2 linked regions of the Homo sapiens genome follow. The protein of the gene in region 2 interacts with the protein of the main gene of each other region in a pairwise test. Each region holds a gene or a part of one and is shown on either strand. Other genes may lie near its edges.

Region 1 (7,026 bases), on a different chromosome or scaffold from region 2:
GTAACTGCAATTAAACAGTGATACCACAGCCACAGCAACATAAAATACTGCTACAGCTAACTAACTGGGCCTGTCAGTTCCTTATTTTAGCACAGTAGGTAGTATAGGAATGCCTGCTAGTTTTAAATGATGGGTAATGGTAACACATCAGCAACTGTCTTGCCCCACTGTAACAAGAAAAATGAGTTTCATTACAAGTTCTCTCTTCTGGAAAATCCAAAGCCCTTTACAGATATCTTTACAACAACATCTCAAATACAATAATGATGTTGAGAGATATTATTCCACATTTACAACAAACAGACAGTAGTGTGGTTTCAAACAATCCAATAACCCATTATCTTGCTTGGTGCAGTTTTAGAAAGAATATCGAGGATAAAAAAGATTCTATTATATAGTTTAATGTGTCATTTCACTGTGAGAGCCAAGCCTATAGAATATAGAATATAGCCTTCTGAGGAAAAGACCTACTATAATGCCTCAGATTTAAATAGTATTTTACAGCCTACAAAGCACTTATTCATTTTACAGTCTCATATGAAGATTGCATTCTAGTCAAGGGACCAAGTCTATCATCAAGCTGTAAGGCCAAAGTCAGTAACTATCTCAACCACACAAATATTCATAGAATGCCCAGACATCCAAATAGGAAGAGAGAAAGTCAACTACCCCTGTTTGCAGACGACATGATCCTATATCTAGAAAACCCCAGAGTCACATAATTAAAGAGCTTCTGCACAGCAAAAGAAACTATCATCAGAGTGAACAGGCAACCTACAGAATGGGAGAAAATGTTTGCAATCTACCCATCTGCCCAAGTCTAATATCCAGAATCTACAAGGAACTTAAACAAATTTACAAGAAAAAATCAAACAGCCCCATTAAAAAGTAGGCAAAGGATATGAACAGACACTTCTCAAAAGAAGACATTTATGTGGCCAACAAACATAGAAAAAAGCTCACCATCACTGATCATTACAGAAATGCAAATCAAAACCACAATGAGATACCATCTCACACCAGTCAGAATGGTGATTATTAAAACGTCAGGAAACCATAGATGCTGGTGAGGCTGTGAAGAAACAGGAACGCCTTTACACTGTTGGTGGGATGTAAATTAGTTCAACCTTTGTGGAAGACAGTGTGGCGATTCCTCAAGGATCTAGAACTAGAAATAATACCATTTAACCAAGCAATCCCATTACTAGGTATATACCCAAAGAATATAAGTCATCCTACTATAAAGACACATGTACACATATGTTTATTGCAGCACCATGTACAATAGCAAAGACATGGAACCAACCCAAATGCCCATCAATGATAGACTGGATAAAGAAAATGTGGTACACGTACACCATGGAATACTATACAGTCATAAAAAAGGAATGAGATCATCTCCTTTGCAGGGACATGGATGAAGCTGTAAGCCACCATCCTCAGCAAACTAACACAGGAACAGAAAACCAAACACTGCATGTTCTCACTCATAAGTCAGAGTTGAACAATGAGAACACATGGACACAGGGAGAGGAACACCACACACCAGGGCCAGTCAGGGGGTGGGGGGGTGAGGGGAGGGAGAACATTAGAAGAAATAGCTAATGCATGCAGGGGTTAAAACCTAGATGACGGGTTGATAGGTGCAGCAAACCACCATGGCACACGTATACCTACATAACAAACCTACACATTCTGCACTTGTATCCCAGAACTTAAAGTAAAATTAAAAAAAAAAAAGAAAGAAAACCCCATAGTCTCAGCCCAAAAGCTCCTTAAGCTAATAAACAACTTTAGCAAAGTCTCAGGATATAAAATCAATGTGCAAAAATCACTAACATTCCTATACACCAACAACAGTCAGGCCAAGAGCCAAACCAGGAATGCAGACCTATTCACAATTGCCCCCCACCACACACACACACACACACACACACACACACACACACACGTAGGAATACAGCTAACCATGGAGGTGAAGGATCACTACACGAAGAACTATAAAACACTGCTCAAAGAGATCAGAGATGACACAAGCAAATGGAAAAACATCCCATGCTCACGGATAGGAAGAATCAATATCATTAAAATGCCCATACTGCCCAAAGCAATTTACAATTTCAATGATATTCCTATTAAACTACCACTGACATTCATCACAGAATTAGAAAAAACTGTTTCAAAATTCATATGGAACCAAAAAATAGCCCAAATAGCCAAAGCAATCCTAAGCAAAAGAACAAAGCTGGAGGCATCATGCTACTCGCTACTCATCTTCAAACTACACTACAGGGCTACAGTAACCAAAACAGCATGATACTGGTACAAAAACAGACACATAGACCAATGGAACAGAACAGAGAACCCAGAAATAATGCTGCACACCTACAACTATCTGATCTTCGACAAATCTGACAAAACAAGCAATGGGAGAAGGATTGCCTATTCAATAAATGGTGCTGGGATATCTGGCTAGCCATATGCAAAAGATTGAAAGTGGACCCCTTCTTTACACCATATACAACTGAAGATGGATTAGAGACTTAAATGTAAAACCAAAAACTATAAAAACCCTGCAACACAACCTACATAATACCATTCAGGACACAGGAATGGGCAAAGATTTCATGATGAAGACACCAAAAGCAACTACAATAAAAGCAAAAATTGACAAATAAAATCTAAACTAAAGAGCCTCTGCACAGCAACAGAAACTATCAACAGAGTCAACAGAAAACCTACAGAATGGAGACAATTTTTGGAAACTTTGCATCTGACAAAGATCTAATATCCAGCATCAATAAGGAACTTAAACAAATGTACAAGTTAAGTACCTCATATTATCTGTATGAATGGAGTTCAGGGTTCTACCAATGTGGAAAAAAATTGTCTGTGAGCAATGACACAGTAGTACAAGAAAGATTTGGTTGGGAAATTTTTCAGAATAATATTGGCAGGCAAAATGAAACTTAACAGAATTGTAACTCGAAGTGATTAGAAATACTTCAGCACAATTTTATGTGTCTGCAGTGGCTCACGCCTAGAATTCCAGCACTCTGGGAGGCCGAGGGGGACAGATCACTAGAGGCCTGAAGTTTGAGACCAGTCTGGACAAGATGGCGAACTCTGTCTCTACTAAAAATACAAAACTTAGCCGGACATGATGGCATGCACCTGTAATCCCAGCTACTTGGGAGGGTGAGGCATGAGAATCACCTGAACCCAGGAGGCAGAGGTTGCAGTCAGCTGAGATCCCGTCCCTGCACTCCAGCCTGGGCAACAGAGCGAGACTCTGTCTTAAAAACAAAAAAACAAAACAAAAAAAAAAGAATCCCAGCGTATTTGGAGGGTGGTGATCTAGAAAAAGAGAGGTGGAAGTTCAGATTTGAGGGGTAAGAAAGAGCCATAGCATCAAACTTTGTAAATGAAGGTAATACACTTAGATTGTATTTTCAATGCAATGGAAGCCACTGCAGGAAGTCATACAAAATCTGGACTTGTATTCACTAAGTATTAAGAGTCCAAACTGTAAAAAACATGTATACTCATTAAGTCCATGTATTATCTTGGTGCTACACTTTGCACTCAATGAAATTCATCGTAAGACACAGAATCCCAGAGCTAGAAGGAAACTTAATGAATGTAAAGCCATTATTTTACATATACAAAAACTCAAGCTCAGAGAAAAATGCATCATTCGGATTGCTTTATTAATGGCTGAGAAAAATATCTCCAAAAATAATTAAGGGCAACTAAGATGTCTGGGATACATTCTAAACTCAAAGCTGACATTAATCAAAAAATTGTCCTTTTATATATTCATAAACTGAACCACCATGCTTTAGATGCATATGGCCCATCATAGAATATATAAGATCTTGTAACAGCCTCTGACCACAATCTAAAGCTGCAAACTTAGATGGGGCACATACTCAGTAATGCATTTGATCAATTGTATTGTTCCAATCCCAGCTCACTAAATACACCGTAACTTGGATATTCATTCATCCAGTGAATGATAAGGACCTACTTTGTACAAGGAATTAACACTGGAAGATGAAGAACTAGAATCTAGAAGAAGTAATAAAACATACATATACAAAAAAAGATGCATATATACACAAACACTGACCCACATATATCACACACATATACCATAATTCATATAAGATAAAGTAACTGCAGGCATGCCATAAACAGCAAAATAACTAGAATTAGAACTGAAGCTTTAAGATGTGACTGAATTGTTGTAATTCCTTGTAAAACTTGAACGGATAAAGAGCTGTTTCTTTTGATGAGCAAAGAAAGTGTTTTGAGATAGAATCTACTCCTGGTGAAGATGCTGTGAACATTGCTGAAATGACAACAAAGGATTTAGAATATTACATAAACTTCATTGATAAAGCCGTGGCAGGGTGATAAAATTGACTCCAATTCTGAAAGTCCTACTGTGGGTAAAATGCTATCAGACAGCATCACATGATACAGAGAAATCTTTCTCTGGAAAGGAAAACCAATCCATGTGGCAAACTTTACGGTTGTCTTATTTGAAGAAATTGCCACAGCTACCCCAACCTTTAACAACCAGCACCCTGATCAGTCAGCAGCCATAAACATCAAGGCAAGACTCTCTACCAGCAAAAAGATTATGACTTCCTGAGGCTCAGATAGCATTTTTTTTTTTAGCAATAAAGGATTTTTAAATTAAGGTATATACATTGGTCTTTTAGATATAATGCTACTGCACTCTTAATATAATACAATATAGTGTGACTATAACTTTTATATGCACTGGGAAACCAAAAATTTCATGGGACTCACTTTATTGCAGTGGCCGGGAACCAAACTTGCAATATCTCCAAGGTAAGCCTGTCTTTTCTGCAGCTGAAAGGATCAGAAGGCAGCATGCCAGCTGGTCCTTGATAGATGGGTGGGATTTACAGATAGGGAAGAACATTTTAGACAACAGGCACAACAGGGGCAAAAGACCTATGTAAACTGCAACCAGACCCTCTAGAAGGGAAATCCAATTTTATGTAAATTTTAAGTAAATTAAAATCTAAATGTTAAGTAAATTTAGAGCAAAAATTCTCAACATGAAAAAATGCCAAAACTGAGCTGCAGCCTAAGTTCTATATCACGTCAACAATATAAGAGTTTTACATCTGTATTCATGAGCTTAATTAACACAAAAAAAAGTCTTCTAAATAACTTGACCAGGCACGGTGGCTCACACCTGGAATCCCAGCACTTTGGGAGGTGGAGGCAGTAGGACTGCTTGAGCCCAGGAGTTCAAGAACACAGGGGACCCTGTCTCTACAAAAAAAAAAAAAAAAAAAAAAAATTAGCCACGCACTGTGGTGTGCACCTGTAGTCTCAGCTACTAAGACTGAGGTGGCAGGCTGAGACAGGAGGATTGCTTGAGCCTGCAGGTTGAGGCTGCAGTGAGCTGTGACTGCACCACTGCACTCCAGCCTGGGTGACAGAGTGAAACCTTGTCTCAAACATAAGTAAATAAATAACTTTAAGCCTAGATCAGGCTATTACATTTGTTTTCCAAAAGGAATGAAAACGGATTTCAAAGATCTTTGAAAACTTGCTTTTCAGCAAATAGAAAAAGAATTGGAAAATCACTTATGCTGCTTTTTGCAAAAACAGCAAAGTTGCCCGTTTTAGGAAAAGGTGTTTAAATTCAGCAGCAAAAAACTTTATAACATAGGGTAGATGAGAAAGTGCCATCAACACCACTGTATAAGTTATGGTACTATTTTTTAAGACTCACCTATTTTAATAATATCCTGCATGACTGTGCCAATCTACAATTAATTTTCTGCCCTTTGGAAAAGTATTGCTTTATGATATTAATTCACTTGAAAACTGACAAGTAATATTATTTGGGGTCTTTTAAAAACCTTGTTAAAATTTCATTCTATTTTCAGTAAATCATAAAACTATTTTAACACTATTGTATCCAAATCAAGAGCAGAGCCTCAAAAATCAGTTACCAGCAGCTGGGCATGGTGGCACACACCTGTAGTACTCGCTACTAGGGAGGCTGAGGTGGGAGGATCCCTTAAGCCCAGGAGTTCAAGCCCAACCTAGGTAACATACTAAGACTCTCTTAAAAAACAAACAAAAAAAAAAACTATTATCAAAGCTAGCCACTATGTACTATTCCTATTATGTTCGTTTTCTCCCCTTTCTTTTTTAAAATTCATTTTCATTACAAGATGTGATTGCCAATGTTAAGGTTTCTCTGTATGGTCTAAGAGAATACTGTGGAATTCTTTGAACTATATCCCTACCCTAAATGGCACTGGCTCAATGCAACGAAGGTCACACGAGCCAAGCTGGTGGGAGTAGGGAAGTAGTATACCTCAAAAACAGCATTCAAAGCATTTTTACTTGGAAAACTACACGATGTAAGAGCTAAAAACGGTATGGTTGTTCATCAAAGTCCTTTTCTTTTATTATTTTAAATTAAATTCCACGATTAGCTCTTCTCTGAATCTGACCTGCACTTTCACAACTTTGTCCCTTTGTTTGGGAGGTCCACCTCTGAGTCCTCAATCATGGAATTCTCCTCATCCTCTTAGGCTCAATTCAAGAGAAGCTCTCACAGCCTTGCCCAGCCCCATCTTGCATATGGGAAGTTGTATTCTTGTAGTAAACTCCTTATTTACCCTGGGTTTTACAAACTCATTCATCTTTCTTATCATAGCACCTGTTATAGTACATTAGGAGGCATCTAAATTAAAAAAAAATCGAGTTAAGCTCATTTACCATAAAATATGATCAAATGAGGATTAAAATTGTCACAGATGGTCAAGATATTGAGAAGATACCAAGCAGATATCCAAGAATGACTCCAGAACACTTTTAGCAGATTCCATCCCCCTACAGGTACAGAGCTGGGCCTATGGAAGCCCTGGCTCCTGGCTGCCTGATTGTGATGGTGTCTTTGGCTTCCTTGAGGAGGAAGGGAGGCCTGCGCCATCTGCAACTCCCTAAAAGCAGCTCCAGATT
Region 2 (7,876 bases):
TTGTGATACAGGTTTCTTCTTTATCCATGAAGAAAAACAGACCTTAGAATAAAAACAGAAATGTCCTTGTGTTTGGAAAACAAACCTACAAATGTAAAGATAATTCAGTTAAGTGAATTTTCCTACCAGGTTATGTTTAAAACAACACAATCCATCACCATTTGCTACTTCTCCACCCCCCAACACAAACCTCAAATCAAAATATTGTTTAAAAAATAACCTAGGGGCTTGGTGTGGTGGCTCATGCCTGTAATCCCAGCACTTTGGGGGGCCAAGGCGGGCAGATCACCTGAGGTCAGGAGTTCAAGACCAGCCTGACCAACATGGTGAAACACCATCTCTACTAAAAATACAAAAATTATCCGGGCATGGTGGCACATGCCTGTAATCCCAGCTACTTGGGAGGCTGAGGCATGAGAATCGCTTGAACCCAAGAGGCAGAGGTTGCAAGGAGCCAAGATCAGACTACTGCACTCCAGCCTGGGTGACAGAGCGTGCTGGGCTTGCCTTGGGAAGATGGCCAATACTGATTATCTAAATTTTTTCTAAGTACCTGTGTTTAATAGTGAGCCTTTGGGAGGCTAGGCGGGAGGATCATGAGGTCAGAAGTTTGAGAACAGCCTGACCAACATGGTGAAACCCCGTCTGTACTAAAAATACGAAAATTAGCCGAGCCAAGTGTCATGGCACACGCCTGTAATCCCAGCTATTCAGGAGGCTGAGGCAGGAGAATCACTTGAACCCGGGAGGCGGAGGTTGCAGTGAGCTGAGATTGCGCCACTGCACTCCAACCTGGGCAACAGAGCAAGACACTGTCTCAAACACACACACACACACACACACACACACACACAAATAGTGAGCCTAGGTCAGGCACAGTGGCTTACACCCATAATCCCAGCACTTTGGGAGCCTGAGGTGGGCGGATTGCTTGAGCCCAGAAGTTCTAGACCAGCCTGGGCAACATAGTGAGACCCCATCTCTACAAAAATATGCAAAAATTAGCTGGGTGTGGTGGCTCATGTCTGTAGTCTCAGCTACTTGGGATGCTGAAGTGGGAGGATGGCTTGAGCTGGGGAGGTCAGGGCTGTAAGTGAGCTGTGATCTCACCACTGCACTCCAGCCTGGAAGGCAGAGCAAGACCCTGTCTTTAAAAAAAAAAAAAAAAGAAAGAAAAAAAAAGTGAGCCTTTAAAGCTTTAAAAGGCACGGTTGCTCACACATGTAATTCCAACACTTCGGGACGCTGTGGCAGGAGGATCACTTGAGCATAGGAGTTTGAGGCTGCAACAGATATGAATCATGCCACTGCACTTCAACCTGGGAGTCCAAGTGGGACCCCATCTCAAAAACAAAAATAAGCAAATAAATAAAACTTTAAAAGACCTTGAATTTATAAGTTAGTATCTTTCATAACACATGACCATCTTCATTAGTAAAATCACCTATGGAGAAAACTATTGGGTAAATATTCCATAAAAGTTAACAAGTTTTTATTGAGTGTCTACTATGAGCCACACTGCGTTAGGCCAAGATAAATAAGTAGTAAACAGTCCCTCTCTCAGAAACATTTTAATCTAGTTAAGGAGATAAACCTACAGAATGTCCATTATATGACTTCCCATTTCACTTGAGTCTCTCATCAATCGTCTGATTTAGGTTGGTAAACCTTGTACTACTCTTTTTTTTTTTTTTTTTGTGAGTCTGGGTTACAAGTCTTGCTGTGTCACCCAGGCTGGAGTGCAGTGGTGTGATCATGGTTCACTGCAGCCTCAAAATCCTGGGCTCAAGCGATTTTCCCACCTCAGCCTCCCATGTAGCTGGGACTACAGAAATGCGCCAACATGCCTAGCCTCATTTTTCGATTAGTTATTAAAGCTCAAAGTTTAAGCAACTTGTTTAAGGCTACACAGCATGTATGTGGTGGAGTGGGCCCTCACACTCAGGTCTCCAAAAACAGATAACAAAAGGTAAATATGTCTAGAAAGTTGTAGAGCATTAGCCAAATTAATGTTATCATTTGTATTCTTTAACTCCAAACCCGATGGATTCCATTATTATTTCTTGCTTGAGAATAATATAAGATTGAGTCAAATGTTAGACTGGATATTTCAAATTACAAATGCTACAATGGGATTCCCTTTCATTATATATCTATGCAGAACTTTAATAACCACAGTGAATTTGTGTGAACTAAAATAAAACTTTCTTCACTCCTTAGTTCTTCCATCCTCAATGTGACGTTTTCCTTTTCAGTTGATATAGCAGAAATGAGTTTCATCACACACATCTGACCTCCGAATTTAAAAGAAGTTCACAGCACCATTTTTTTTTTACAATGGCATATATATCTTATATTTTTGAAAGACAAGAGCTATATATGAAGAGGGAAGAATGAGAGACAGTTAAATAGCTACCCTGTTTCTGAAACTGACGATAGACAAGGAATCCCTTAACATGTAACAGGAAAGGTTTCAGTGAGATAGTAGGAAGTTACTATATTTTGTAAGGCATTTGAATAATTTACTGAAGGCCCTTACTGATAATTTAGAAAAAGAAATGGAAAAGGTTGTCTTTGTGAGCAGGTTGTAGTAAAAGTTCACCCATCTGGCATTGTAATAATTCCAGTCTTAAGAGTCTATGATTTTTCTCAAATAGGCAATTAAACCATTCAAATAGCTATATTTGTGAGGAAACAAACCACCATTCAAAAAAGCAAATCAAACATTAAAAGGCAGGAACAAACAGATTTACAGTAGATTATTAATATAGCCCCTGACTACTGAGAATGGTATCATAAAAGAGGACCTACTTACCTTTCCTAAATCATCCCTTGATCCCATTATAGCAAAAACTTTAGCCTTGACGTACCATGAAGGCTATCACATGTAACACACGGTAACCTGGGTTGTATCTTACAAAGACCTAGAGAAGAGGCAAAGCTTGAAAGACAAAGAGTAAGCAGAACTAAATTCTTCCTCGAGTGTAGTATGCTTAGAACCTGCTGTAGGCAAAATTGGGAATTTAGCAGGTTGTCCTGGATGTCTTCCCTACTTGGCTGGTGAGGTATACCTCAAACTTTTAGTGCAGAGAGACCTCAAATCTATTATTTCCTTTTCCATGCCCTAATCAAACCCTGTTCTCCAGCAGAACCAAATGTCAGTCACATATACCACATTTAAAATTGCTTAGAATAGATAGGCTGGGCATGTGGTTTATGCCTATAATTCCAGTGCTTTGAGAAGCCGACGTGGAGGATCGCTTGAGGCAAGGAGTTTGAGACCAGCTTGGGCAACATAGCGAAACTCTGTCTGTCCAAAAAATTTTAAAATTAGCTGGGTATAGTGCTGCATGCCTATAGCCCTAGCTACTTGAAAGTCTGCAGAGGAAGGATCTCTTGAGCCCAGGAGTTTGAGGCTGCAGTGAGTTCTGATCATATCACTGCACTCCAGCCTGGGTGACAGAGTAAGACCCTGTCTCTAAAAAAAAACTAATAATAAAATAAAATGCTTGAAGGAGTGTCTTACTCATAATAAATGCTATATATTGGCTATTATTACTTTTATCCTATCACTTGCATTTGTATTTTAAGTCTCTCTAATTTAGATGGAAAGGTTTTGTCTGTATTACTGGAATTTGAAATATCAGTGAACAGATGTTGAAGAATATTTTGGGAGACTCCTGAAATAAGACTTTGTAGGCAACCACCTACTCACCAAGTCTAGCATGCTTTTTCTACTAAGGGCTGCACGCCCAGGCAGAAATTATCAAGCTTTCTTTGAACACCAAAGAAAGGTACACCTACTTGGCCAGCTGTGAAGGATTTTATATGGCTCATATGTGCTCAAACATCTATTTGCTGGATTCTAATATACATGTTAATTCAATCAAGATTGGGGTATCTACCCATGAGGGAGGGGAACTGAAGCCACCCCATGGAGATAATTCTACTCCCTTGGCCCAATCCTCATGCCACCTACCCTACTTCACCACATTTGCTGATTCGACATTTTATTCTTCTGCAATTATTTACTTCCCTGCACAAAAATGGAAATCTAAATACCATGATGGTCTCTGTGACAAAAAGTGAAAGGAAACTAACTGTTAGGAATAAAGGGAGATGAACATGCATTGACAGCTCTAATTATATAGATTGCTTATTTGTTTGGTTGTTTCTTAAGTGTTTCAAAACTCTTTCAGAATAAAAGTACTAGGCAAAAGGGGCATATGCCATACAGATTCAGAAAACTTGCTCAAGAAACACCATCATGTTTTTCCACCTCCCTACCTTCCCAGTGACATGTCACTATGACCTCGGTCTCCTGCTTTGCCCAGACTGCCCTCCACCTCGGAACAAACTGCTAGTACTGAGAGACCTCAAATCTATTATTGAATCCTACTCTCATTAGGCAAAAGAAAAAAGACTTCAGATGAAGAATTATGCAATACAAATCAATTGGGAGCCCATCTATCACTGGTCTTATTCCTGGAGAAGTCTTAGTATAATAGATAGAAGAACTCCACTCTTGAAATATTATTTTCCCTTTAGTCCTCTCTCTTAAACTGGGAAAATTCAAAGTCCCCACCATAATAAAGAAATAAGAGGGTTTTTTTTCTATTTTTCCCATTTCCCTATTCACTGCCCTTCCCTCACATGAGCTTGCTAAAGTTCATAGTCAAAATTCACGTCTGAAATAAAGAGGCTTGCAAAAGAAGCTCATGTAATCCCACTCCTTAAATACCACTAAGACACGTGAGATATTGTTTAGATTGTGGACTCTTACTTTGACATGCCAGCATAGGTAGATGGACAGGCAAGCACATCAGATGTCACTGTTTGGCAGCTGATAAAAGTCAGTGGTGCTATAATACTAAGCACAGAGCCACTAGATTAGTCTGTGAGGGAAGGAGATGCCTCTTCCTTCCCTTCAATAGTGGGTTAAACCCAGCTGGCACCCTCTGGAACTACGGGTAAGTCCCTTCTTTATTCCTACTACACTTTTAGGTCTTGTTTTTGTTTTTTGTCCAAATCAGATGAGTGTATACAAAGATGATTTTCAGATAAAAAGTTTGAAAGCCACAACATTATAATGGTATTACACAAAAATTTAAAGAGAAAGCGACTCATTCATTTCATTGAGACTGGAAGGCATTATACAAATGATAGAAGGAAAGATAGCTGTGTGTCATTATTTTTAAATCACCATTTTTCCTTGAAAAGGGACACTTGATCTGATGTAATTGTGGTGATGTCTTATGAACGCAACATATCCTCTATCAGTCTTCTGTGCAAGTCTATGCTATATTAGAGACAGGAAAAAAATGTTAAGATTTTTTAAAAAGGAGACTGAATAGTACTTTATTTATAAAAATCTTTGAAATTCATTTAACATTATTTGGAATAAAATGACCCTGTCATATAACAGAATCTATTATAGAATTAAATTGTTGAACAGTAACTACAAACATAAAGAAAATACAGGATCACCTGCGTAAATGTCTGCATAAAATTTTGACACATGGATAAAATGAAACTTATGAAATAACATATTTTTAATTGGGCTTTTAAAAATATCACTAATTATTAACAATGTAGGCCAATATCAACATGTACAAGACAGTTGCCATTCTGAAAATATATGTAAAGAAAAAAAGAGAACTGTTTCTGGAAAATATCTACTATTTCATAAGCGGTTTATTCCTTGCTATCTGAAATGAGTCTCAATAATGTACCTGCCCAGAAAGAAATTTAGGAATCAAACTCTGGATTCAATTCTGCAACAGACTGAATAAACCGATAACTACAAAACTACTTGCCTTGAAATAGACTTTTTTTTTAGATCTACTCAAGGCCCTCCTTCAGGATGTTTTTCCCCAACAATTTAAATGCCTAAAGTAGTTCATTTCTAAAATGCATTCTAGTTTAATGTATTTGTGTTCATAAACTTGAAATTAAGGAATATTTAACTTTTTAAGTATTCTTTCTCAATAGCGTCTTTCTCTTGGCTGTTTAGTTGCATTTCTGTTTTTTCCTAAAATTGCTAGTTTTAATTTAACTCTAAACTACATAGGCAACTTTGAAATACTATTTTTTGAAGGTATCCTATTATTTAGGATGAAACTCTTTGGTCTGGAAAAGTTTTATTAACATTTTATCCAAGACAGTAACTAAAATAATTAGAAGACTTCGTTTCAATGATGACAAACAATTTGGTTAATTTTTCAGTTAAAAGTTTGATTTGTCATTATCTCAGTATTGGCTTATACCAGATGAAACAAAATAGGCAAATGTATTTTGAATCAATTTATCTGATATTTTCAATGAAAACAGGATTAGTGTGAAAACAATTTATAGGACTAGTCTTTGTGTGTAATGTCTATATATAGTCCCGCTTAGGTTTACCATACTAATGGAAAAAAAATCAGAGACAAATATAATCCTTCAAGGTTGATTTTCATGGCAAATGTTTCATCTGAGAAAAAATGAGGATGTACTGTAGGAAGGCAGGAGGCCCACTACAGAGCTAAGTAGGAGGAATGGCACCTGTCTTTTCTTGGTAAGGTATAGACTAGTTTCATATGTGTCTTATTTACTTCTATGCTTCCTGTTTGCCATTTGAAAAGAAAAAGTAAAAGAGCTAAAGCAATTTCAAAATTAGTCTGAGATCTCCAAAGGTGTGGCAAAAAAAAGAAAAAAAAGACCAAAAAACAAAATTAGTCTAAAATACATACTAAACAAATAATAAAAAGTAAAACTCTAGATAATTAAAAGAACATCAAGACCAACAACTAGGAAGTATAATCTAAAAATAACAGAATTATAAGGTATGATTCTGTTTAAAAATACATAATAAAAACAGAAAAATGTATAAGTGGCTCTGGAATGCAGCCTGTAACATATGTTCTACACAAACATATACACACAGTCACTCCTTAATTAATATCTAGTTTAGTAATATGGTCAATTTGGAATCAAGGAGAGAAAAAGAAGCAGTGAATTGTAAGGTTAAAAAGCAATCCACTCAGCTGGGTGCGGGGGCTCATACCTGTAACTCCAGCACCAAGGGGGGCTGAGGCGGGAGGATTGCTTGCAGCTAAGAGTTTAAGACTAGTCTAGGCAACATAGTGAAACCCTGTCTCTACTAAAAAAAAAAAAAAAAAAGAAAGAAAGAAAAAAAGAAAAATTAGCCAGGCGTGGTGGCTTATATGTGTAGTCCTTACTCTGGAGGGTGCAGTGGAAGGATCGCTTGTGCCCAGGAGTTGGAGGGGCTACAGTGAGCTATGTTCGCCTGGGCGATTAAGCAAGACACACACACACACACACACACACACACACACACACACAAAAGGAAGGAAGGAAAGAAAGGAAAAGAAAAAGCACATCAGATCTGAAAGATGTCAAATAAACAATGTTATTGTTTAAGCAAATATTGTAACAATTATTTTCTCCTTTTGAAGGAACAATATTCTTCAAGAGAAGGTCACTCTACCAAAGCCAGGAGCACAGTATTCTCAGGATCTCAACAAGGAAGAGCAGACCAAGGTTGCTTCTGATTCCTTACAACCTTCCGTAATTCCAGGCTTGTGGCCCCAAATTCAGGGCCCCACCCTTCCAGGAACAAATCATTATAGTAATAATTTGCCTTCATCTTCCATATACCAACTAAGCATGTTTAACTACGAACGTCCAAAACACTTCATCCAGTCCCAAAACCCATGTGGCTCCAGATTGCAGCCTCCTGGACCAGAAACCTCCAGCTTCTCTAGCCAGACCAAACAGTCTTCCATTATCATCCAGCCCCGCCAGTGTACAGAGCAAAGATTTTCTGCCTCCTCAACACTGAGCTCTCACATCACCATGTCCTCCTCTGCTTTCC

Evidence for each region.
Region 1: the proteins of MYOT (region 2) and ST7 interact in a two-hybrid assay, tested with the Homo sapiens proteins (one study listed by BioGRID).

Annotation. Positions count from the first base shown.
Region 1 is NC_000007.14:116,956,481-116,963,506, reverse strand, and holds part of ST7 (suppressor of tumorigenicity 7 protein), read right to left. Parts: exon of another isoform or gene 6,784-7,026; intron 4,355-6,783; exon of another isoform or gene 3,690-4,354; intron 1-3,689. UniProt on the Homo sapiens protein: May act as a tumor suppressor.
Region 2 is NC_000005.10:137,862,984-137,870,859, forward strand, and holds the start of MYOT (myotilin), read left to right. Parts: upstream 1-4,876; 5' UTR 4,877-4,970; intron 4,971-7,457; 5' UTR 7,458-7,668; coding exon 7,669-7,876. UniProt on the Homo sapiens protein: Component of a complex of multiple actin cross-linking proteins. Involved in the control of myofibril assembly and stability at the Z lines in muscle cells.